Regions from separate parts of the Homo sapiens genome. Here all the other regions are linked to region 2. The links come from fine-mapping of genetic effects on gene expression. A gene starts in region 2. Each other region holds a variant in brackets. All regions are shown on one strand. Distances are from middle to middle. Region 1 overlaps LARS1 (leucyl-tRNA synthetase 1). Region 2 holds the start of RBM27 (RNA binding motif protein 27). Region 3 overlaps RBM27-POU4F3 (RBM27-POU4F3 readthrough).

What was found.
Region 1: its variant is fine-mapped to the expression of RBM27 in whole blood (TOPMed, PIP above 0.99).
Region 3: its variant is fine-mapped to the expression of RBM27 in whole blood (TOPMed, PIP above 0.99).

Annotation. Positions count from the first base shown.
Region 1 is chr5:146,135,006-146,143,193 of GRCh38, reverse strand. It overlaps LARS1 (leucyl-tRNA synthetase 1), which reads left to right. Exons shown (of 32, transcript NM_020117.11): 20 at 110-322; 21 at 2,933-2,990; 22 at 7,530-7,593. It also overlaps the pseudogene RPL35AP16 and the pseudogene RPL35AP17. Among named protein-coding and RNA genes, the nearest start is that of PLAC8L1, 34 kb to the right of the region's middle. The variant C/T (reference allele first, on the strand shown) is at 3,195.
Region 2 is chr5:146,199,573-146,207,760 of GRCh38, reverse strand. It overlaps RBM27 (RNA binding motif protein 27), which reads right to left and starts at 4,156. Exons shown (of 21, transcript NM_018989.2): 1 at 3,937-4,156. The coding sequence starts at 3,995. It overlaps RBM27-POU4F3 (RBM27-POU4F3 readthrough), which reads right to left and starts at 4,156. Exons shown (of 20, transcript NM_001414499.1): 1 at 3,937-4,156. The coding sequence starts at 3,995. RefSeq lists enhancers at 3,941-4,100, 4,571-4,720.
Region 3 is chr5:146,282,491-146,290,678 of GRCh38, reverse strand. All of the region lies in intron 18 of RBM27-POU4F3 (RBM27-POU4F3 readthrough), which reads right to left. It overlaps RBM27 (RNA binding motif protein 27), which reads right to left. Exons shown (of 21, transcript NM_018989.2): 20 at 5,947-6,057; 21 at 1,456-4,732. The coding sequence ends at 4,649. Among named protein-coding and RNA genes, the nearest start is that of POU4F3, 52 kb to the left of the region's middle. The variant G/A (reference allele first, on the strand shown) is at 4,386.

The DNA.
Region 1 (8,188 bases), 65 kb after region 2:
ACTACATTAAGAAAGAGATTCCTAATCCATGTTTCGATTCAGGTACTGATTCTTCCAAAGAAATTACATATATATATATATAAAATAGTTTGTTTTATTTTTAATACAGACCGCAACAGATGACCAAGGAAGTTTGGGATTATGTTTTCTTCAAGGAGGCTCCATTTCCTAAGACTCAGATTGCAAAGGAAAAATTAGATCAGTTAAAGCAGGAGTTTGAATTCTGGTATCCTGTTGATCTTCGCGTCTCTGGCAAGGATCTTGTTCCAAATCATCTTTCATATTACCTTTATAATCATGTGGCTATGTGGCCGGAACAAAGGTGAATGATAAAATAGGTGTGGACTAGATTTATTGATTGTCAATAGGGGTGTCTTGTGGCTTCAAATATCTAATAAATTATTGTGGAGGGGATGGTATAGATTTGCCAGTTACATTCTTTTTCTTATCTTAAATATGTACTAAAGCAGAAAGGCCACCTCCTATCTCTTACATCCAGAAATCCACATACCTACCCCAGGCACCAAAGCATGTCATATCTCAGGTGCATTGCTGGTCTGCTAGTAATTCATTTGACCTGTTAAATGCAGGAATAATTCTAGACCATTAGAATTGGAAAGAACCTTCTCTTTAGAGCAGAGCGCCCCAAGGTTCCAGCATTAGTTGTGGTAACATTCTGACTAGAGTCTGTTTCTTCAGAGTAATCCTTCTGTCCTTTTCCCTCTTTACCCAGACATGTCTACTTTTCCCTCTAGTTCCTCAAGTAGCTGAGGAAACAAACCTCTCAGTCTGTTCAAATTTTATTTCATAAAACCAAGACAATTTCTTATGCCTTCTTGTATTTAGAATAAAATTACATTTTTTCCTTCAACAATAAAACGAAGATTTTGGAGTAGAGGAATAAAATAATTTTTTTTTTGAGACAGAGTCCAGGCTGGAGTGCAGCGGCACGAACTCAGCTTGCTGCATCCTCTGCCTCTAAGGTTCAAGCAATTCTCCTGTCTCAGCCTCCCGAATATTTTTTATTTTTTTTGAGACAGAGGTTTGCTCTTGTTGCCCAGGCTGGAATGCAATGGTGTGATCTCAGCTCACTGCAACCTCCGCCTCCTGGGTTCAAGCGATTCTCCTGCCTCAGCCTCCCGAGTAGCTGGGATTACAGGTGTGCACCACTACGCCTGGCTAATTTAGTATTTTTAGTAGAGACGGGGTTTAACCGTGTTAGCCAGGCTGGTCTCAAACTCCTGACCTCAGGTGATCCACCCGCCTTGGCCTCCCAAAGTGCTGAGATTACAGGCATGAGCCACCGTGCCCAGCCCAGAGGAATAAGATAAATTTAATGTGGTTCTTACACTACTTGTCATCCACTGTTATTACTTACCTAATTTATTTATTTATTTTTCTACAGAGTCTCACTCTGTCATTCAGGCTGGAGTGCAATGGCATGATCTTGGCTCACTGCAGTCTCAACTTCGCAGACTCACGTGATCCTCACACTTCCGAGTAGCTGGGACTAGCCACATGTCACCTTGCCTGGCTAATTTTGTTTATTTTTTGTAGAGACGAGGTCTCACTTTGTTGCCCAGGCTGGTCTCAAACTCCTGGACTCAAGCGATCCTCCTGTCTTGGCCTCCCAAAGTACTCGGATTACAGGTATGAGCCACCGTGCCTGGCCCTAGTATTTTTCTCTATTGTTTACAATGCATTTGTAGGCAAATTGGTATCTCAGAAGTATTCTTTACCAATAAGTTGAATCTTCATTCCTTTGCACCAATTTTTTTCACATTTGTTAGGTTTTTAAAAATTACAAATAAGTATTGACATCAAGAGCTTATGCCAGGTACTTTTTAAATCACTTTTAATAACTCTTTTTACTATAGCTTTTCGAGGAAGGTCTTTAATATCCATGTCTGTAGGCAGGGAAGTGTACTGAGGAATAAAGAGGAAGAAATCATAATCCAAAGCTACCCAGCTAATGAAGATAGTACAAGTATGCAAACCCAGAGAGATTGGCTCCACAACTCTTGCTCTCAACCCCCCATATGATCTCATTGCTAGAATGAATGAATGACATGTACATAGTTTGAAAATTTAAAGAATACATAAAGGCAAAAAGTTAAAAGTGAACTTTCATCCTTGCCTGCACACTACTCTATTTCCCAAAATTCATCATGATGCTATTGGTTTCTTGTGATTTTATATACCAGCATCTGATATCTCTATTTGTTAATGTATATAAAGATACCACATTGTTTACACTGTTCTGTCTTGTTTTCACATGTATATGTGTGTATATATGTGTATATATATGTGTGTGTGTATATATATGTGTGTGTGTGTATATATATGTGTGTATATTTATATGTGTGTGTGTGTATATATACATTTTTTTGAGAGGGAGTCTTGCTTTGTCGCCTAGGCTGGAGTGCAGTGGCGCGATCTTGGCTTACCGCAACCTCCACCTCCCAGGTTCAAGCAACTGTCTGCCTCAGCCTCCCCAGCAGCTGGGATCACAGGCGCCAGCCACCACACCCGGCTAATATTTGTATTTTTAGTAGAGATGGGGCTTCACCCTCCTGGCCAGGCTGGTCTTGAACTCCTGGCCTCATGATCCACCCGCCTTGGCCTCCCAAAGTGCTGGGATTACGGGCGTGAGCCACTGCGCCCAGCCTTCACATATATTTTTAAGATCTTTTTATATCCATACGTGTAGCCCCACCTAAGTAGTTACGTCATTGTATACCTGTATCCTAGTTTATGTAGCCAGTCCTTTGATTTGTTTTCACTTCCCATTACAAAAAGGACTATAGTGTATATCCTTGCACTTTTATCTTAGCAAGCCTTTATGAGTCTATTAGCTTTTACCTCAAAATTTTAAGCCAGAACTATCATCTTTGTTTTTTTATTTTCTATCTTTAAACATTTATCTGTGAAGTGACAAATGGCCTACAGCTGTGAGAGCAAATGGACATCTCCTCCTGAACTCTGAGAAGGTAAGGCTTATTGCATCTTAAAAGTTTAAAATTCTGTGGAAGGCTTTTCAGATTTAGGTTGTTGCACTTTTTTTTAAATGTATGTAAGAAATAATGTGTCCAGGTGTGGTGCCTCATGCCTGTAATTCCAGAGCTTTGGGAGGCCAAGGTGGGAGGATCACTTGAGGCCAGGAGTTCAAGACCAGCCTGGACGATATAGTGAGA[C/T]CCCATCTCTACCAAAAAATTAGTAAATAAATAAGAAATAATATGAATTAATCAGAGTTAAAAACCTTCTAATTAGCATATTTAGGACGAGGCATAAATTAATTTTTTTTTTTTTTTTTTTTTTTTTGAGACGGAGTCTCGCTGTCTCCCACACTGGAGTGCAGTGACGTCATATGGGCTCACTGCAAGCTCCGCCCCCTGGGTTCACGCCATTCTCCTGCCTCAGCCTCTCGAGTATCTGGGACTACAGGCACCCGCCATCACGCCTGGCTAATTTTTTTTTGTATTTTTAGTAGAGACGGGATTTCACCGTGTTCGCCAGGATGGTCTCAGTCTCCTGATCTCATGATCTGCCCTCAGCCTCCCAAAGTGCTGGGATTACAGGTGTGAGCCACCGCGCCTGGCCTATAAATTAATTTTTATCTTTAAAATTGAGCAAGGGGAGTAGATAGTATTAATTGAAGAGAGAGATAGGGAAGAGTTACCTATTTGTAACATTTGTATTTAGAGTGGCCAAAGGTGACACAAATTGCAACTGAAGTAAAGAGAGAAAAAGAGAGACAGAGACAGGGACAGGAATCATAAAGAGCTTAGCATTGTGACCCAGAAGAGTTTTCTTTTCCTTTTTTTTTCTTTTTCTTTTTTTTTTTTTTTGTTGTGATGGAATCTCACTCTTTCGCCCAGGCTGGAGTGCAGTGACACGATCTTGGCTCACTGCAACCTCCACCTCCCAGATTCAAGCGATTCTCTTGCCTCAGCCTCCTGAGTAGCTGGGATTACAGGCGCATGCCACCATGCCCGGCTAATTTTTGTTTTTTTCCGTAGAGATGGGGTTTCGCCATGTTGGCCAGGCTGGTCTCGAACTCCTGACCTCAAGTGATCGCCTGCCTCAGCTTCCCAAAGTGCTGCGATTACAGGCATGAGCCACTGCACTCGGCCATTTTTTTTTTTTTTTTTTTCACAAATCCACTTTTATTGACTTTTCGTTAGTTTAAATCCTTGAGGGGTACAGCATCACTCCGATTCTGTGTCCAATAGCCTTAGCAGGAAGATTGTTTAGGAATTTGGCATGAACCATGCTACTGTTCCCGTGGGCCTGAGTTACCTTTCCCCAGATTACTCTGGTTTTGTTTGGTTTGCCTCCAGGAGTCACCGTCTGGTTCTTTGCTTTGTATACATAGCACATCTCTTGCCCAAATAGAATTCTGTTTCATCTTGAGCATAAACACCTTCAAATTTTTTTTTCTTTTTCTTTCTTTTTTTTTTTTTTTGAGACAGAGTCTCATACTGTTGCCCAGGGTGGTATGCAGTGATGCGATCTTGGGCTTGCTGAAACTTCCACCTCTTGGGTTCAAGCGATTCTCCTGCCTCAGCCTCCTGAGTAGCTAGGATTACAGGTGCCTGTCACCACACTCGGCTACTTTTTTGTGTTTTTAGTAGAGACAGGGTTTCAGTATGTTGGCCAGGCTGATCTGGAACTCCTGACCTCAAGTGATCCACCCGCCTCGGCTTCCCAAAGTGCTGGGATTACAGGCATGGGCCACTGCACCCAGCCATTTCTTTTTTTTTTTTTTTCCTTTTTAACAAATCCACTTTTATTTATTGACTTTTCATTAGTTTAAATCCTTGAGGGGTATAGCATCACTCAGATTCTGTGTCTAATACCTTTAGCAGGAAGATTGTTTAGGAATTTGGCATGAACCATGCTACTGTTCCCATGGGGCCCGAGTTACCTTTCCCCAGATTACTCTGGTTTTGTTTGGTTTGCTGCCAGGAGTCATGGTCGTTCTTTGCTTTGTATACATAAGCACATCTCTTGCCCACATAGAATTCTGTTTCATCTTGAGCATAAACAGTTTCACTTTTTTTTTTTTTTTTTTGAGATAGAGTCTCGCCCTGTTGCCTGGGCTGGTATGCAATGACGTAATCTCGGCTCGCTGCAACCTCCACCTTCCGGATTCAAGCAATTCTGCCTCAGCTTCCTGAGTAGCTAGGACTACAGGTGCCTGCCATGATGCTCGGCTCATTTTTTTGTATTTTTAGTAGAGACGGGGTTTCACTATGTTGGCCAGGATGGTCTCAAACTGACCTCATGATCCGCCCACCTCAGCCTCCCAGAGTGCTGGGATTGCAGATGTGAGCCACCATGCCCAGCTAACACCTTCAATTTTAAGAAGAGCTGTGTGTTCTGGAGACATTGCTCATAGCCAGCAAAAATGGCCTTGGACCACAGCCTTCCAGCCATATTTCCTTTTAGAAGTCCTGCTCCCAGCAGGCCTCCATAGGATCCAAGATGATGGGAAGAGCTATTTTTCTTAGTAAGTTGAGAAAATGACTCGGTGCTTTTTGTTTTATACTGTGACTGGCCACTAAATTAGTAGAATGATAGAATTTTGGAGTCTGTAAGATTTTTAGATGTCACGTAATGCTCCTTCCCAAGCAGTATAGTAGTCCTCTCTATGCTTCTGCTGTTACTATCACTACTGTTACTATTAATAATATGGGTGATTTTTTTAAAACAGACTGCATAGTACTTTATCTTATTAATCAATATCCTCAGTAGGAGGTTATGCAAACTTGACAGACCCCTCACTTGCCCCTATGATACTTCTGTGCAAATTAGAGAAGGGCACCCCTACTTGACTTAAAAAAAAAAGTACAAAATTATTTATTCCTCATTAATAAAAATGGTAACAAATTAGATTTGTTACAACCAGTGAATTTTGCTGTAACCAACAGAATAGCAATGACTGTATTAGTTGTCATAAGTGTCTATATGTCATAATGAAAATAGTTGTAGGGGACTGGGCGCGGTGACTCACGCCTATAATCCCAGCACTTTGGGAGGCCAAGGCGGGTGGATCACCTGAGGTCAGGAGTTCAAGACCAGCCTGGCCGATGTGGTGAAACTCCATCTCTACTAAAAGTACAAAAAATTAGCTGGGCCTGGTTGTGGGCGCCTGTAATCCCAGCTGCAGGCTGAGGCAGGAGAATCGCTTGAACCCGAGAGGCAGAGGTTACAGTGATTTGAGAACGTGCCATTGCACTCAGGCCTTGCGCGACAAGAGTGAAACTGCATCTCAAAAAAAGGGAAAAAGGAGAAAATAGTTGTAGCTTTAAACAAATGGCAGCTGATGTAAATTGCATTATGTAACATCAGACTTAGCCTGTGCCCTAATATTGAAAGGTAATAAAAGATGTTCCTTTAAGATAATCTGTGGCCGGGTGCGGTGGCTCACGCCCGTTAATTGCAGCACTTTGGGATGCCAGGGCGGGCAGATCACGAGGTCAGGAGTTAGAGACCAGCCTGACCAACATGGTGAAACCCCGTCTCTACTAACAGTACAAAAATTAGCTGGGCATGATGGTGCGCGCCTGTAATCCCAGCTACTCAGGAGGTTGAGGTAAGAGAATCCCTTGAACCGAGGGAGGCGGAGGTTGCACTGAGCCAAGATTGCGCCACTGCACTCCAGCCTGGGTAACAGAGCAAGACTCCATCTCAAAAAAAAAAAAAAAATAGGTAATCTGTATATTAGACTGAAAAACTGCTGTTTAGAAGCACAGGCGATTTTAATAGATTTTGTTAGCTCAATAAGGAACCTTTGATTATTGAACTCATTTCTTCTTTGTAAGTCAAAGAAGAACAATACATTTATTATTCTTGTTAGAACATGACATTTTCTTTGGCTGTCTGAAAGTTGTTGTACTATCCTGATTTTATTAGAACAAGATATGTATTGCCATGTAGTATAATAGAAAACTGATATAATCATCATTTCCTTCTGATATCAGCATAGTTAAACTAATGACATACAATTTTAAAGCGATAAAGATTGCTAGGCTGTGAGTGGTGCCTCTTCCGATGCATTGCCCTAAGGCAGAGCACAACTTGAACAACCGATTTTTGTGACCCTAATGATAGGAGGGTTCCTAAAATCATAACTCCAACCTCATGAGCTGGTCCATTCCATTTCTGAATGATTCTAATTGCCGTAAAGCTCTTTCTTAGGTAACCAGGTGGTGTTCTAGAGTTATAGTGGAATCATTACACATGTCTAACCCAGACAGTATAGGCTAAATCACAGTGGACTGAGTGTGAGTCTGGAGGTCCTCTCCTAGCTGTGTCACTGATAGCTGAGTAACCCAAACAAGGCACTTTATCGGATGAAATTCAGTTTTCACCGCTCTAAAATTAGTGTAATATCTTTTCCTTTCCGTATTTTGAATTCTTTTTTGTTTTTATCTGGTCATGGCCAACCTAGTTAATTTTATTTGGCTCATTTGGTTTATTTATATTACTGTTATTAATGATTGATCACTGACTCTCTATTTCAGATGTCAAAATCCACAGGCAACTTCCTCACTTTGACCCAAGCTATTGACAAATTTTCAGCAGATGGTGAGTAAACATTTTTCTTATTGCTGTTCTGTAGGGTCCAGTTCTCAGATTATAGAAGACACGTTAAAATTGGTGTTTTAATTTTACTTTCTGTTTTGCTTTTAACAAAATTTTAAAATCTTAATGTTTCCTTTGTGGATGAGCAACATAATATTTAATATATAAGAATTGCTGACATGATGTGTTCAGGAACAAATCAAGCTGAAGTTAGTTTGAGTCTTCCTTTAATGAACTCAATATCATTGCTAAGATTCAAGACTTGTTTTGTAGAGATGTTGAGTATGGGCCAAGCGCGGTGGCTCACGCCTGTAATCCCAGCACTTTGGGAGGCCGAGGTGGGTGTATCACCTGAGGTCAGGAGTTCAAGACCAGCCTGGCCAACATGGTGAAATCCTGTCTCAACTAAAAATACAAAAAAAAAAAAAAAAATTAGCTGGGTGTGGTGGCAGGTGCCTGTAATCCAGGCTACTTTGGGAGGCTGAGGCAGGAGAATCGCTTGAACCCGGGAGGCGGAGGTTGCAGTGGGCTGAGATTGCATTGCACTCCAGCTTAGGCAACAAGAGTGAAACTCTGTCTCAAAAAAAAATGTTGAGTA
Region 2 (8,188 bases):
ATCGCTTGAACCCCGAAGACGGAGGTTGCAGTGAGCCAAGATCGTGCCACTGCACTCCAGCCTGGGCGACAGAGACCCTGTCTCAAAAAAAAAAAAAAAAAAGAAATATCTCCCGTTACATGCATATGTTTCACTAGGGACAAGATGTAACATTTTAAAAATCCCCCGGGAATTGGAAGCTTTCATAAATTTAATTTACTGTAAACTAAGCTAAATAAGAAAATGTAATAGAAAATCATGTGCACACAGGCTGGGCGCAGTGGCTCATGCCTGTAATCCCAGCACTTTGGAAGGCCAAGCAGGTGGATCACAAGGTCAGGAGTTCAAGACCAGCCTGGCCAACAAAGTGAAACCCCCTCTCTACTAAAAAATACAAAAAATTAGCCGGGCATGGTGGCGGGCGCCTGTAATCCCAGCTACTCGGGAGGCTAAAGCAGGAGAATCGCTTGAACCCAGGAGGCAGAGGTTGCAGTGAGTGCCACTGCACTCCAGCCTGGGCAACAGTGAGAGATTCCACCTCAAAAAAAGAAAGAAAAAGAAAGAAAATCATGTGCACAGTCATAGTTTGATTCCAACCTAGCCGGTGCAACTATACTATCTCAAAGCCTAGCAACTGCTCTGAAATGCTATGTTGTAGCAACATGCCAATCTGCCATGAAAATTTTCTTGAATCTGGAATATGCAAAAAAGTAAATTTACAAACACAACCCACTTTAGCATATCATTTATTACATTTTAGGATATCTAAACAAACAAAAAATAATCTCCCATGATGACATACTAAGAATAAAAATATATGTGGTATCTGCATTTACTTTTTTATTATTAATATCTCCATTCAAAACTGTTACTTAGGTGAGTTAAAAATAAGTATTCTAGACCAGGCACAAAGGCTTATGCCTGTAATCCCAGCACTTTGGGAGGCCGAGGTGGGTGGATCACCTGAGGTCAAGAACTGGAGACCAACCTGGCCAACACAGTGACACCCCCGTCTCTACTAAAAATACAAAAAATTAGCCGGGCATGGTGGCAAGTGCCTGTAATCCCAGCTACTCGTGATGCTGGGGCAGGAGAATCGCTTGAACCCAGGAGGCAGAGGTTTCAGTGACCTGAGATTGCACCACCACATTCCAGCCTGGACAACAAGAGCGAAACTCCATCTCAATAAATAAATAAACAAACAAATAAAGTATTTTAGCCTTTTTTTTTTTACCCTAAATGAGCAACAAAATTAAAAAAAATAAGCATGTGAACTTTAAGTTGAATATATAACTCAAAAGGAGAAACTAAACTCAAGTAATCATTTTGAAAGATAATTTTTACTCATGAAAATTACAGAATGATCATACTTATGAGTCTAAGTAGCTTTAAAAAAAAGAAGGAAAAAAAAAAAAGCCTAAGCAAGAAGAAGCTCCCACCCAGACTAACCTTCAACATTAAGGGGAAAAAAAAAAAAACAAAAAACGAAAAGCACTACTCAGAGTAAAACATCTTAGGGAGCTTTAAAAAAAAGAAAAAGCAAGTAACTATAAGGCTAAAAGTTGTTACCTTCTATCCAAGACATAAAATGTATGTTTAATTCTTCTTAAAAGGATAGCTACCAACAAAACTAAACTTGTCTGGAAAGTAGGTTGTTTTTTCTAAAGGCATCAGAGCAGCAGAAATACAAAATAAAGAGATGTATTTTTTCTTTTTTAATCTTAAATAACATGAATAACACTTTTTTTATTTTTATTTTGTTGAGACGGAGTCTGGCTCTGTTGCCCAGGCTGGAGAGCAGTGGCCTGATCTAGGCTCACTGAAACCTACACTTCCTGGGATTCAAGCGATTCTTCTGCCTCAGCCTCCCGAGTAGTTGGGACTACAAGCACGCCCCACCACAGCCGGTTAATTTTTATACTTTCAGTAGAGACGGGGTTTCACCATATTGGCCAGGCTGGTCTTGAACTCCTGACCTCATGATCCGCCCGCCTAGGCCCCCCAAAGTGTCGGGATTACAGGCGTGAACCACCGTGCCCAGCCACATGAAGAATACTTTAAACATACAGATATTTTTCTTTTTTCAACCTTTTCCCATATATGGTCAATTTCATTACATCCATCTTATTTCCCACCTTCACCACAAACCATTTCCATCTTTGTGCCCAAAACTTTATTGTAGGAGTTAAAAAAACCCCTATTCAAGAGACCTATATTCTTCTACAAAACCTTCAAGTGTGTTCAGTCATTTTCACTGAAAGAGATCAACAGGGAAGTAGCTTGACACTGTCCCCCAGAAGTTCCTTTACCATGCCTCCACACCTCCCAAACTACTCCCTATTTTCACCTCCGAAAAACACTCAAATTTTCCACTAATGCAATCTGACCTAATGAATCAAAGCCTGCCCATCTCTTCTTCTACCCCTTTCTTTCAAGCAGAAAGCTCTAACCTTCAATAAGAGAATAATAAAGCAGAAGCAAGGAGGAGGCAAAACATGATTCTTTCCCTTCCAGTAACTAGCCATACCCCATTCCCCCAAATAAGCACTCCACAACTCTACCCTTTAAAATGGTTATCAAACATGGCCGGGTCCAGTGGCGCACGCCTGTAATCCCAGCACTTTGGGAGGCCAAGGCGAGCGGATCACCTGAAGTCAGGAGTTCGAGACCAGCCTCGCCAACAAGGCGAAACCCCATCTCTACTAAAAATACAAAAATTAGCTGGGCGTGGTGGCGCGCGCCGGTAGTTCCAGCTACTCGGGAGGCTGAGGCAGGAGAATCGCTTGAACCCGGGAGGCGGAGGTTGCAGTGAGCCGAAATCCAGCCACTGCACTCCAGCCTGGGAGACACAGCGAGACATTGTTTCAAAAAAAAAAGGTTATAAAACAAAATGTTGATACATCTGTTACCTCTTTCAAGCCTCCCAATAACATTTCTACTAACACCACCCAAAATATTTTTAAAAGACAGGTCTCTCATTCTTTTCGGTCCCTCATACTACACCCCAATTATCTTCAGGTGTCCTCTCAATCTTACAAAAACATTTACAAAACTGTCCTCTCAATGGCACAAGAATACTTACAAATCTCTTATTCTTTCTACCGCTCCTTTTATTCCTCCAACACCACCTGTATCTAAAAATCCCTACATACTGTTAGGTATACTCCTCCACCAATTAATGCTGCATACCAGTGTAGCCCTTTCAACCTTCAACTAAACTTACAGAAACCTCTTTTTTCCAACCTCTATGTATCTAAAAGTCATCAGTTCCCCTAGCACTATCAAGCCCTCAATAATACTTTAAAATCCCTTAATATCCTTGCTATCACACTTATCACCTCCCCAATAATTTCTAAAACCCTTCAATGCCCACACATCCTTTTCATCTACTCCATAGTATTTTTCAAATCCTTCAATATTCTTGATCCCTCAGAACTTACCAATAATCGCTATACAGTTTCAATGTCCCTGCTATCCGCTTCTGCCCTCATATTTCGAAAATGCCCTCGATATTTTGCTTCTAGACCTTTCAGTCCCGGAATAATAATGTTTATCAAACCCTTGATATTCTGCTATTCCCTTCGACATCTCAATATTCACATTTTAAAAATCCCTCAAGAGCCCCGTTACCTCTCTCTCAGTTCTCAAACAGCAATGTTTTAAATTCCCTCACGGCCCCTGCTACCCCTTCCAGCACCCCGATATTTGCGTTTGAAAAGCCTTCGCTGTCCTTGCCTGCCCCCCCAGTCCCCATATTCACGGCGCCTCTCCGTCCCCAGCGCTCCTCTCCCACCCTCACCCCCACCACAATGGTGATAGTACTACAGGGAAGGCGTCGCCGGGACCTCCCGGCCGCGGCCCCTCAGCGCCGCCCCCCACGCCACCTCCCCTCCCCCACGCCCCCGCGAGCCCCCAACGCCCACGTTCGCCGGCCCCGGCCCAGCCCGGCTCACTCACATCGGCTCCAGTAACTTGGCCAGCCAGGACTTGAGGGCATCCACATCCTCTATGAGCATGGTGCAGGGAAGGCGGGCTCGGCCGCCGCTCTTCTTCAGGCCTGCCGTGGGTCTCCACTACGCCGCCCCCTCACGTTCCCTTCACAGCTCCCGGTGCCCCAGCCCACCGGGCATCTTAGGAGACTTCAACCTACTCCCCCGGCCGGGGCCTAACAGGAACTAACCCAAGAGCCCTCACTCAACCTAGCCCGAAGGCTGAGGTGGGCGGGAGACAGTGCCGAGTGGCAGGCCTGAGAACCAGTAAGAGAGAGGGGGCCCTGAGGGCAAGACCAATGAAAAGGCTCGCTCGCCCCGCCGGCAGGCGGTACCCAGTCAGGGAGGAGAGATATAGCAAGGTAGGTGGAGAGCTTAAGTGAACTCCTGGTGCAAGATGGTATCTTGGAAAAGGTGCTTTGCCTCTTAAAGGGGCAGCGGCGCCTTTTTTTGACCACGCCGCCGCCCGCCGCGGAATACCGGTGTCTGCTGCTGGGAGTGCCTGGGGGAACCCGGCGAGCCCCTCAGCCTGGTTCCTTCCTCTCGTTTTTCTTGGAAACACACACTCGTGTCCCGAAATGACTCAGCTGTAGTAAATCTGCAACACAACGTGCAATACGTTCACGTTCGACACATTGCACAGAATGCAAAATTTTACTTTTTTTCTTTACACACTCATGTTGATTGGCACTCACGTTTGTATTTTCTGCTGCTCTGCTTTAATTACGCAGAATGTTTCTGACAACCATGCCTTGGAATCCAGTAATCGTCATTTTTAAAACGTGGCGCACGGATGTAAAAGGCTGAGGCCATTTCAATTTTGCTAGTACTATTAATAAATGTTGCTTTATTTAGGAAGAAAAATGACTCCAATAGTTTGTTTTTAATTATCTTTTCATTGTATATCTAAAATTCAGTGGTTGGGGGACGGGAAGGGAGAATTTTAATCAGCAAAGAAGGATTACAAAAAAATTTTTAAGACAAATTAGAAACTACTGAAATAGTCAACTTACTTTCTAGTAGGTGAGAAATTCTTTCTGGAGTTTTGAAATCACTGATTTAGCACTGATGTTAAAATGTTTACCCAATAACATATACTGAGTCCCTGCAATTGCCAGCACTGAGTAAGGCACTAGGAGTCCAATGCTGAGCAAAACAGAGCTTCTCCTCTTAAGATGATGAACAGTTTATGGGGTTATGCATTGTAATAACATTTTGAAAAATACCTAATGAGCACGCACCTCATATAAAAGAAATGGATCAACCTCAAATAAACAGACATCCTATATATACATAGAACAGGTATAGGCAAACTTCTGCAAAGGATCAGATACTAAATATTTTGGTTTTGTGAGCCTTGAGGTATCTATGGCAACTACTCGTCATACAATGTCTTGGCTTAAAATTAACCAGGGACAATATGTAAATGGAATGATTGTGGCTGTATTACAAACATTTATTAAAATTATATAAAATTTTAAATTTATATAATTTTCACATACCATGAAATATTATCTTTTCATTTTTTTCTCCATTTAAAAATGTAGGCCAGGCTGGGCGCGGTGCCTCACACCTGTAATCCCAGCATTTTGGGAGGCCAAGGCGGGTGGATCACCTGAGGTCAGGAGTTCCAGACCAGCCTGACCAACATGGTGAAACCAGTCTCTACTAAAAATACAAAATTTGCCAGGCATGGTGGCACACGCCTGCAATCCCAGGTACTCGGGAGACTGAGGCAGGGGAATCGCTTGAACCCAGGAGGCAGAGGTTGCAGTGAGCCAAGATCGTGACAAGAGCCAAAGAAACTCCATCTCAAAAAAAAAAGGGGGGGCTTGGCACGGTGACTCATGCCTGTAATCCCAGCACTTTGGGAGGCCCAGACGGGTGGATCACCTGAGGTCAGGAGTTCCAGACAAGCTTGGCCAACATGGTGAAACCCCGTCTCTACTAAAGATACAAAAATTAACCGGGCATGGGACGGGCGTGGGCCAGGCGCAGTGGCTCATGCCTGTATTCCCAGGGCTTTGGGAGGCCGAGGTGGGCGGATCATGAGGTCAGGAGATCGAGACCAGCCTGGCCAACATGGTGAAACCTCGTCTCTACTAAAAATACAAAAATTAGCTGGGCGTGGTGGCGCGTGTTTGTAGTCCCAGCTACTCAGGAGACTGAGGCAGGAGAATCACTTGAGCCCAGGAGGCGGAGGCTACAGTGAGCCGAGATCATGCCACTGCACTCCAGCCTCAGCGACAGAGCAAGACTCTGTCTCAAAATAAAAAAAAAATTAGCTGGCTGTGGTGGCACACGCCTGTAATCCCAGCTACTCCAGACACTGAGGCAGGAGAATCGATTGAACTGGGGAGGTGGAGGTTGCAGTGAGCTGAGATGGTATCACTGCCCTCCAACCTGGGCAACAGAGCAAGACTCCGTCTCTAATTAATTAATTAATACAAATAAAAATGTAAAGGCCATTGTAACCTCACAGGTGTACAAAGAAGATGCCAGCAGGGTTTAGCTTGCTGGCCACAGTTTGTAAACCCCTTACATAAAGTAGTAAAAGCAGAGGTGCACTTAAAAATAATGTAATGAACCTCCCTCACTAACCCCCTCCTCATAACTTTGCAAATGAAAGAAAAGGTCCAGAGAGGCAAGTGGTTTACCCAGAATTACACCTCTATGGAGTAGAAGTAGCATCCAGAGGTTCTGACAGCAAGCCAAGAGCTTTCTCACTTGCAACTCTTGCCTCTTCTTTTCTCTCTCCTCTTCCTCCTCCTTTTTTAAAGTTTATCCACATTTTCCCTTCACTTCGAACAGCTACAGAAGTTAGCTGGGTGTGGTGGCACATGCCTGTAATCTCAGCTACTTGAGAGACTGAGGCACGAGAATTGCTTTAACCTGCGAAGCAGAGGTTGCAGTAAACTGAGATCAAGCCACTGCACTCCAGCCTGGGTGACAGAGTGAGACTCTGCCAAAAAACAACAACAAGAACAACAACAAAAACAACAACAACAAACAAACAAAAAAAAACCCTAGCTCCCACCTTGGATCTCTTGTTCAGGGGAAAGCTAGTCATCATGTTTCAAGACATTCTAGCAGCCCTGTGGAGAGGCCCACGTTGAGAGGAACTGAGACAACTGAGACCCCTTCCCAACCAAGGGAGAGTGGGTGTGGTTATAAAAGTACAACATGAGGGACACTTTTGGTGTTGGAACTGTTTTGATTTTTGACTGTGATGGTGGATACAGGAACTACAGGGTGGTAAACTGAATAGAACTAAACTTACCTATAAAGTCAAGTTGATGGCTGGGTAAAAAAAGAAAAATAGAACCAAACTTACATATGCACAGAAGGGACCTCAAAAAGTTCATGGAAAAGTGCAATTAAAAGAAAAATAAAAACCACAAACTTTATTTCTCAACATAAGCTTTATCAAGTTCCAGGCACATTGAGAACATACAAGTGATACCACACAAATGATACTGGGCATTTAGTTCATCCCTAAAGAACTGAGAGTCCTGGGAATTTAGCCATGTCAATGCAGTCTTTTTTACATTATGAACTGAAGAAAAATGGGACCCTTTACATATTTTTTAAACATTAGGAAACAAAAAGAAGGCAGAAGGAGCCAAATTAGGACTGCAGGGTAGCTGCCTAATGATTTCCCATCAAAACTTTTGCAAAATTGCCCTTGTTTGACCAGATTTTTTTTTTTTTTTTTTGAGACAGTCTTGCTCTGTCGCCCAGGTTGGAGTGCAGTGGTGCAACGTTGGCTCACTGCAAACTCCGCCTCCCAGGTTCACGCCATTCTCCTGCCTCAGCCTCCCAAGTAGCTGGGACTACAGGCACCCACCACCATGCCCAGCTAATTTTTTGTATTTTTAGTAGAGACGGGGTTTCACCATTTTAGCTGGGATGATCTCCATCTCCTGACCTCATGATCCACCCTCCTCGGCCTCCCAAAGTGCTGGGAATACAGCCGTGAGCCACCGCACCCGGCTATTAGATTAATGAGCAGGAGCATTGCCAAGATGGAGAAGGAATCTCTGGTGAAACTTTCACAGATGTTGTTCTGCTGAAGCTTCAGCTAATTTTCTCAAAACACTCTCATAATAAGCATATGTTATCGTTCTTTAGCCCTCGAGCAAAATGCCTTGAGCATCCCAAAAAAACTGTTGCCATGACCTCTGCTGCTGACCAGTCTGCTTTTGCTTTGACTAGCCCAT
Region 3 (8,188 bases), 83 kb before region 2:
CACCACCACAAAAAGAAATGCTTGCAGAAGCCTAAGAGTAGATGGAAACACAAATAACTCACAATCATCCAACACTATTCTGCCCTTGATTTCACCCCATATCAAATTGCCTATCTTAGAATGTTGAAATGGTTTAGTTAACCTAAGGTCAACTGGAGAACAGGGAAGAGGCCAAATGGTAGATGATCCTGTTGAAAGGAGAGATCTTGGCAATAAAACCAATTTAGCATAAATGAAGGTGATTCATAATACAAGCAGTAGCAGTAGATTGCCTTTTCTTTTTTCTTTTCTGGGTCAATTTTGGTTGGTCTCTCAAGTTAGGTCTTTCAGACTAAAAATGAACATAAAATGAGCAGCTCTGCACAGCAAGGTAATGTTGGTCCATTTAGTCTAAAGCAACCCTATCATCCAATATCCCCACATGTTGATAAACACAATTCTGTGTTTACGGTAACATATCTAGATCCAGATTTGACTGTATGCTGGGGCTTATTCAAAATTTATCCTTGGCTTTAGCACAATTTACTTCAAAATCAGTAAAAATATCACATAAAATCATTAATTTCTGTTAATGAGAGCTCCATCTTAGTAAAACATTTGATTTGTTCAATAGATATAACTATGTTCAGAATTTGCCTGCTCCCTCCAAAAAAGTCCCAGAACTAATGTTTATTGTAAATATATTTAGGATTAATTATGATCTACTCAAAGCAAATGGTGACAAACAGCTTATTTGCTATTTACATAATACATAAAATAAATTTTATTTGAAAGGAATGAAAATAACTTTACTCTCATTCTTTGAGTATTTTCTTGTATAAGCTGAAATTCAAAGAATGTTCCTTCTTAAACAATGCATAATCATTGGAGGGGGAATTTTATAATAGCATTTTTTAAAATGGGAAAACCAGGTGATACACTTCCCTTCTCTTTCTCATCACCACCCAGTCCTTAGTGCATAACATCACTATCTTCCCGTTTGTCCTTACAAATCTTTGTCACATTCAGAACTGATTTATGTTTAAATCATCTCTTCTAGGTGTTTTTTCCCTTCTCCCTATTCTACTTAAGGAAAATGTCCCTCCTACTGATGGCAGGCATAATGAATATCCTCAAGACAACATTAAAATAATTGCTTTCAAGAAACTGTTTTGTGCTTTTTTATCTGGGATACCAAGAACCATCCAGGAACAAAATAATGTGGCTATCAAAGGTTACTTACAAGTAGCATTTTAATACCTTCTCTTTCATTCTCCAGGCTACTCTGTTGAGAAAGTTATCCTACTTAATATTTAATAGCCAGTGACTTCGAACCCAACTTCATATTGAGTGATGTTCTCTCATGTTTATGAACACAACATAAAACACACATACATAGCCACTACTCACTCACTCTCACAAGCAAGCATACACACACATTTTCTTTCTTTCCAGAACAAGCCAGAATTACAGCTCTTTTGGTGATTGTTATAATTTTTGGAATGGTTCATAAATTTTCCAAATTCTTTTAAATTTGTAATACTTTCATCTTTTTTCTTTTTTTTTTCCAATTGTGAACCATTCCATATTGCATCTTTATTGCAAAAGTCAACATGCTTCTTAGAAATTCAGATTGTAATTGATAAAACAAACATTACATATATGAATTTAAATGTATAAACAGTTAGAAATTCAACAATATCTCCTATTATACTATTACACAAGTTCACAATTTTGTAAAAACTATAATACAGGCATACTATACATCAAGAGGAACCACTATTCCTTTTCACATGATTTTTTTCTTTTTTGAAATAATGATCCATCACCAAGGACCCCTTTCACCTTAACAAGACTGTTTTCCAATTTATCATCTTAGCTGGTAACAACATTTCTTCAATGTTACATAAAGAAATTGAGGGAAATTTTGCAATACTTGGGGTTACCTTTTTATCTTGGACAGTGATCCACTAGTATATCAGGCTGACCTAGTCAACTGGTGGCTATTATTGCTGATCAGCTACTTAAAAAGATGTCATACACATTAAGAGGGACAGAACTTGCTTTAGATGCTGTATGTTATTTCTGTAAATGAAGATGCCAAGAAAACATGTATGGCAGTTATTCACTTTTAAGTGAAATTCTAACAGTTGAAGATTTGATGGTGGAAGTAAATCCCAAAGGGGGCAGGGGATATATATAAACTATTTTATGCTAACCTGAAGTTTTCCAGTATTATAATTAACTCACTTCAAATTCATCTTTGAGTCAAACATGTTTTAAAATTCTTTGAAAGCACACTTTTAAAGTATTTTTAGTCCTGTTTAAGGTGTACTGAAAACTTATAGAAAGGGCCTCAAACCTTACTGAAAAAACTGTTTTTCACTTTAACACACTTCTATCTTCTGCCCCCAATACTAAAAAGTCAAATTTTCAACTTTTTACTGAGAGTGAAATAAGATGTCCATTTTGAGGTCAAAAAAATCATATGAAAAGGAATCTCATTCTGTTGAACTGTCTACTGAAATTTTTCTTAGAGTTCCATTTATTTACTGTAATTTTCAGTTTCCAAATACAAAAATACAACAATTCTTATTGAAATCTATACGCTGGTAGTTTTAGTACACAAAAAAAAAACCCAAACAAATTATTTACAAAATTATACAGTTTAAGAAAAAACTTTGTACAAAAAATATATAAATCCTTTGTTCCCTCTATCACGTTTAAACTGTCAGGACTCAAAATATTCACCACAATGAATCTTTCAAAATATATACTGACTGAGCCACAGACATCAAGAAAAATTTCATTAGAGATGATGGAGGAGTAAGGAGCAAGATTGTGTATTCTAGATACACCATTCTGATGTTTTCCTTCTTTTATAAGCTTATTTTACCTTCAGTGTTACTAGAAATATAACAATAACCTAGAAAAAGGAAGTCCTCATTATTATGAAAGAAAATTATATGAACTTAAAAATGACCCTGGTTTGACACATCATTCCAGGAAAACATGTAGAAGAATAAAGATTATCAGAACGTGGGATTTAACTTCTTATAGCTAAGTAAATCTAGAATCCTGATGGTTTTAAGTTCTTAGTGAATAGTTTCTATATTGAGAAATTGTCTTTACCTCAGCAAACAAAATCCTTGATATAGTGGTCACCAAGACCCTTTTGGAGACAACAGGAGGTTTCAAATTTTCATACCACACATATATAAAAACACAGATGTGTATATCCTTGAAAAAGTGACAGCCTAGGTACATTAATCATTTTATTTTCCCAGGGGTCAGTACAGTGTAGTGTTGCTCCTCTGCTTTTCCATCTAACATTCAGAACACGAAGACATAAATTTACATATATATTTTACTTAACAGATACTCTACTCTATACAGTGTACAGTAAAAATGCACACAGTAAAGGAAACTGTCTACTGAGGGATGCGTATGTTCATGGATAGCAACAAGCTACAAAATTATGAAAAAATAAGGTCATCTGAACAAAGTCATATATGACTCCCATTTATTACTAGCATACTCAGCCCTCAACCCCCTCCCACCTCCACCCCCCACCCCCCAGTCACCTCACCATCATGGTTTAAATTTAGGAAAAGAATTTCAGACATTTTTAAACCCTTCTGTGTAACTATACTGAACTGAAGCTTCAAAAGAGGGAAAAAATAAAGCTGGTGATTCTCTTCTCCCCAAAATCCTTCCATCATTCTCATCAAAACATCACTTATTTATCCAGGTGCTGGTTTGAACCTTTTATTGGAGACTGCCTGCGGTTGCCCAAATGAACCACTTATATCAATGATGACTAAGTCAGGCCTATTAATAGAAAGGCAAGAGGAAGAAAAGGGGGACGAGAAAGGGGCAATAGGTGAAAGCCTTTTACATTCTGAGTTATAAAAATTTTTAAAAAGACCAGCCGAACCAGCGCTCACTAAATATCAAAGCAAACTAAGAATCAGTAGCAGGAAAAGTCCAGGAGTTCATATGACAAGAGAATGGAAATACTATAGAGCTAGCTACCATTGCTGTAGCATTTAAGAACACACAGTTTGTTGTGATTTTCACTGAACTAGTACTACCACACATAAAAACCATGAAAAACAAATTTAGACTGAATACAAATTGGGCTCCTCCAAAGTAAAAAAAAAAAAAAATTAAAATTAAAATAAACATATTTTTCTTCCAAGACCACTCTTGAAAGCAAAAGGGTATTTTAATTACAAATATTTCCTACTGTCTGATGACCCATCCATAACAACTGAGAGTTAAAAGATTACAGGTGATTTTGACATTTAATTAAATTTTATCAGTAGATTATAATCCAAAATAAAATTTCTGAACACCCTGTCATTTACATCATAATCCAACACCAACAGCAACAAAAAAAAGGT[G/A]GTGTGGAAAATAAGGCTCTAGAGATTATCCATGTCATTGCTGTGGATCTTCACAACTGTGTAAAAGTCACTAGGCCTTTGGTGCTTTAATATCATGTACAGTTATGAGATGTGTTTAAATAGCAAACTTGCTGTTCTTGAACCTACTGTGTTGAAAAGAAAAATAAAAAAATTTTTTTTGGCTCATTGACTTCTTTTAAATAATTTTTAAAAGTTGTTCTTCTAAACAATATTCCTAAAAATTATACAGCTAGCATCAGATTTCATCTTCGCCATGAGCGAGACTCATATTCATCTTCATCTTCATCGTCATCATCAGGCAAAAACAAATCTGAGGTTTCTGTTTCCTGAAGAAAGAGAGGTTAAAATCTGCTTAGTGGCACAAGAATGGTAAGTAAAATACTTTTTAGGCCAAAGGACAAACAGGCTAGTATACAAAGCCCAGGCTAGATTTCATAAGGGATGCATGCAAGAGTATCTTTCAGGGCAAAAAAAAAAAAAAGCCCAAAATATTTTTGTAAATGAATATGAATTCTTCTCCCCTGCTAATTTTGCTACTTTTAATAGGAGATTTCTACTCTAATATCATCAGGAAAATAATGTGGACATTTAGTACAGAAAATTTAAAAAAGACTATGAGATACATTTCTGATAAATTAAAATTAATTTTATTCTATAAAAAATTAGGAAAATAAATGACCAAACACCTAAATCTTTGTTTTTATATCCATCCAATTGTTTGTGAGAGGTGAATATACTAGCTTCCCCATGACACTGATATTCCAAATCTTATATAAAAATCTAAAATCTTAGACAAAGTAGATGTATCTGCAAACACTACCCAAATACCATGACTTCTGTTTTTCTTTTAATCTAGGGAACATTTCTGCTTTTGCTGTGTAAAATTACCTATATAGTGAGAAGACACTTGATCAAACTATAAATGCTAGCTAGGTATCTTTTAAAACCAAGATTGTCATATAAATCAGGAAAACCTCGCAATATAGCCTAAGTGTTCACTAAATAAACTAATGATAAACAACAGGAGTAAAAAAGCAAAATAAATTCTCATATATTTTAAGAAGCTGATTATTCAGTACTTTTATTATTTAGGTCTTTAGTTTTCCAATTCTCTCCTCTATGTTCAACTTCTGCACACTCTGATTTTAACCAATTGTACACAGAAGGAAAATAAGAAACTCAAATCTATTACTATGGAACTTGAATAAACAAAAAGTGAAACCAACCAATTAAAGTTTAATTCATTTATGTAATCTCTGACTTTATTCATCAGAATAAAAATTTCTAGAGCTCAAATAAATCCAATATAAATGTAAACAAAAAAGAACAGTCTTTCCTATATCAGAAGAAAATAACCCCTAACACAGCTTCTTATATCTCTAGACCTGTTTTAATTCTCTAATAAACATCTAAACGGGTCTTAATTTGCATGCATGAAAGAAAAACCCAGCATTTTTTAATTTATACTATTTAATATCATAAAAAATACATAATTGAGAAGTGATCTAATTCAACTCTTATTTCCAACCACTAAATTTACCTCCTCCTTGACTTCTTCTTCTTCAGTCTCAGTGGATATAGATGGTACCTTGGGCTTGTGCCATGATATCTGTAGCCGACGGTCTTTAAATTTTGGCCCTTGGTTTGCGGTCTAAAATATATATTAGAAGAACATACAAGTTTGCACTCAAATTTACTAATGATTTCTGCAAATTCTGTGTTATTTAAAAAGTATAACATAGGGCAGGAGAGAAATCTGTTAAGGTGGATCTACAATCTCCAATGAGAGCTAAAAAAAATAAAGTCCCTTTTAATTAGAGCAACTATATGTTCTGGTTTGCCTAGGATAACCCATGGTTTATATCTGTGTCAGGTAAATGTTAGCATCTGTCTTGGTTGAAGAAATAATTTTTTTTCTAAGTAGAGTTGCTCTACTTACAAAAGTCATGATGAGGACAAGAAATATTCTTAATACAGGTATTGACCTTTGGCTTTGATATCTACATATATAGACTCAAACCTTAGAAAAAAGGTGAATCATCTGCTTATTCATCTCACTGCATCTCTCACAGCCCCACCTATGTTGGATAAAGTTCTTCTTATTTCCACTTCTGAAACGCTATACACTAATAAGCACCTCCCAGCTCATCTATGCATTCAATAAACATTAAACAAATGCCTAATACTATCCTAACTCATAAAACTGCTCCATTTCAAATGTTACTTGGTACTAATTTTTAAACATTTTTTTCTCCCCAGCAAATTCCAATAGGGGAAAGCAAATTTTAAAGACAAAGCAACACAGACAAGGGACTAGGGATCCAAAGTTTCAGAAAAGTAGAAGTTTAGCCATCCCTATAGCTTTCCTATCAAAGGTCCTCATTTATAGAACTGGGGGTTCTAAAAAACATAATAGAAGAGATTCTTTTTTATTTGGGCTTTCATTCTAGTCTATCTAGCAAAATCATTGCTAAACCTCCTGAAGCATTTGCCAAATGTTTCCATAAAACACTTGGAGCATAGCATGGTGAGAATGTACATTAGAGCAGACTCATAAATCCATTACTGCCTGCACAGACATCGTCCTGTGTTCTAAGGGAAAAATTCCCACCATTCCTTGAAGGGTCTAAATGCTCATAACCTAACACCAAACATTATGACTCATGGGACATACCAAACTGATGTATCAAAATAGCCCTACCAAATATAGATATGTACCTTTTTTTTTTCTTTTTGAGACAGGGTCTTGCTCTGATTCCCAGGCTGGAATGTGCAGTGGGAAGATCACACTCACTGCAGCCTCGACTCCCTGGGTCCAAGTGATCCTCCCACTTCAGCTTCCCAAGGAGCTGAGACCACAGGCATGCACCACCTCACCTGGCTAATTTTTTTATTTTTATAGACGGGGTCTCCCGATGTTGCCCAGGCTGGTCTCAAACTCTTGGGCTCGAGGAATTCTCCCACCTTAGCCTCCCAAAGTGTTGGAATTACAGGCACGAGCCACAGCACCTGGTCTATATTTACCATCTTTTAAAAATTAGGTAATGTACGTAACAGAGATCCTTTACCCTTTACTCTATCCTTTAACACACAGCCCAATTATAGAGAGGCTTTCCCTGCTTGTTTTGTTCATTTCTTTATTATTTGAATTTCTAAATAAAAACATATTACTTTTATAAACAGAAAAAGTAATAAAGATTTTTAAATCTGTAATAACTGTGTTGCTCTCCAAAGAGGATAAGAGGTCTGTCCTCCAAAAGGAATATTAAGGCATTAAATGTATTGCATATACATTATTAAAGGAAGAATAAGAAATGTATACAGAGTCTGAAATTAAGAACAAATAATTTCTACTATCTAACTTACAACAAATCAAATAAATTAGCAATTAGAATAAAGATATATTATGACGCTACCAAGTTAGGAATTCTCATACACAAATGGTGAGAATCTCAAACTGATTCTAAACTGGTAAGAATCTAAAACTGATGGGGTTCACTCAGCAATTCCACATACAGTCATCACTTGGTGTTTCTGGGGGACTGGTTCCAGGACTCTCTGTGAATACCAAAATCCATGAATGCTCAAGTCATTTACATAAAATAGTGTAGTATTAGCATGTAATCTACACACATTCTCCTATATACTTTGAATCCTCTCTAGATTACTTATAATATCTAATGCAATGTAAAAGCTATGTAAATAGTTGTTATACTGTATTGTTTAGGGAATAATGACAAAAAATGTACATGCTCAGTACAGATGCAACCTTTCATTTTTTT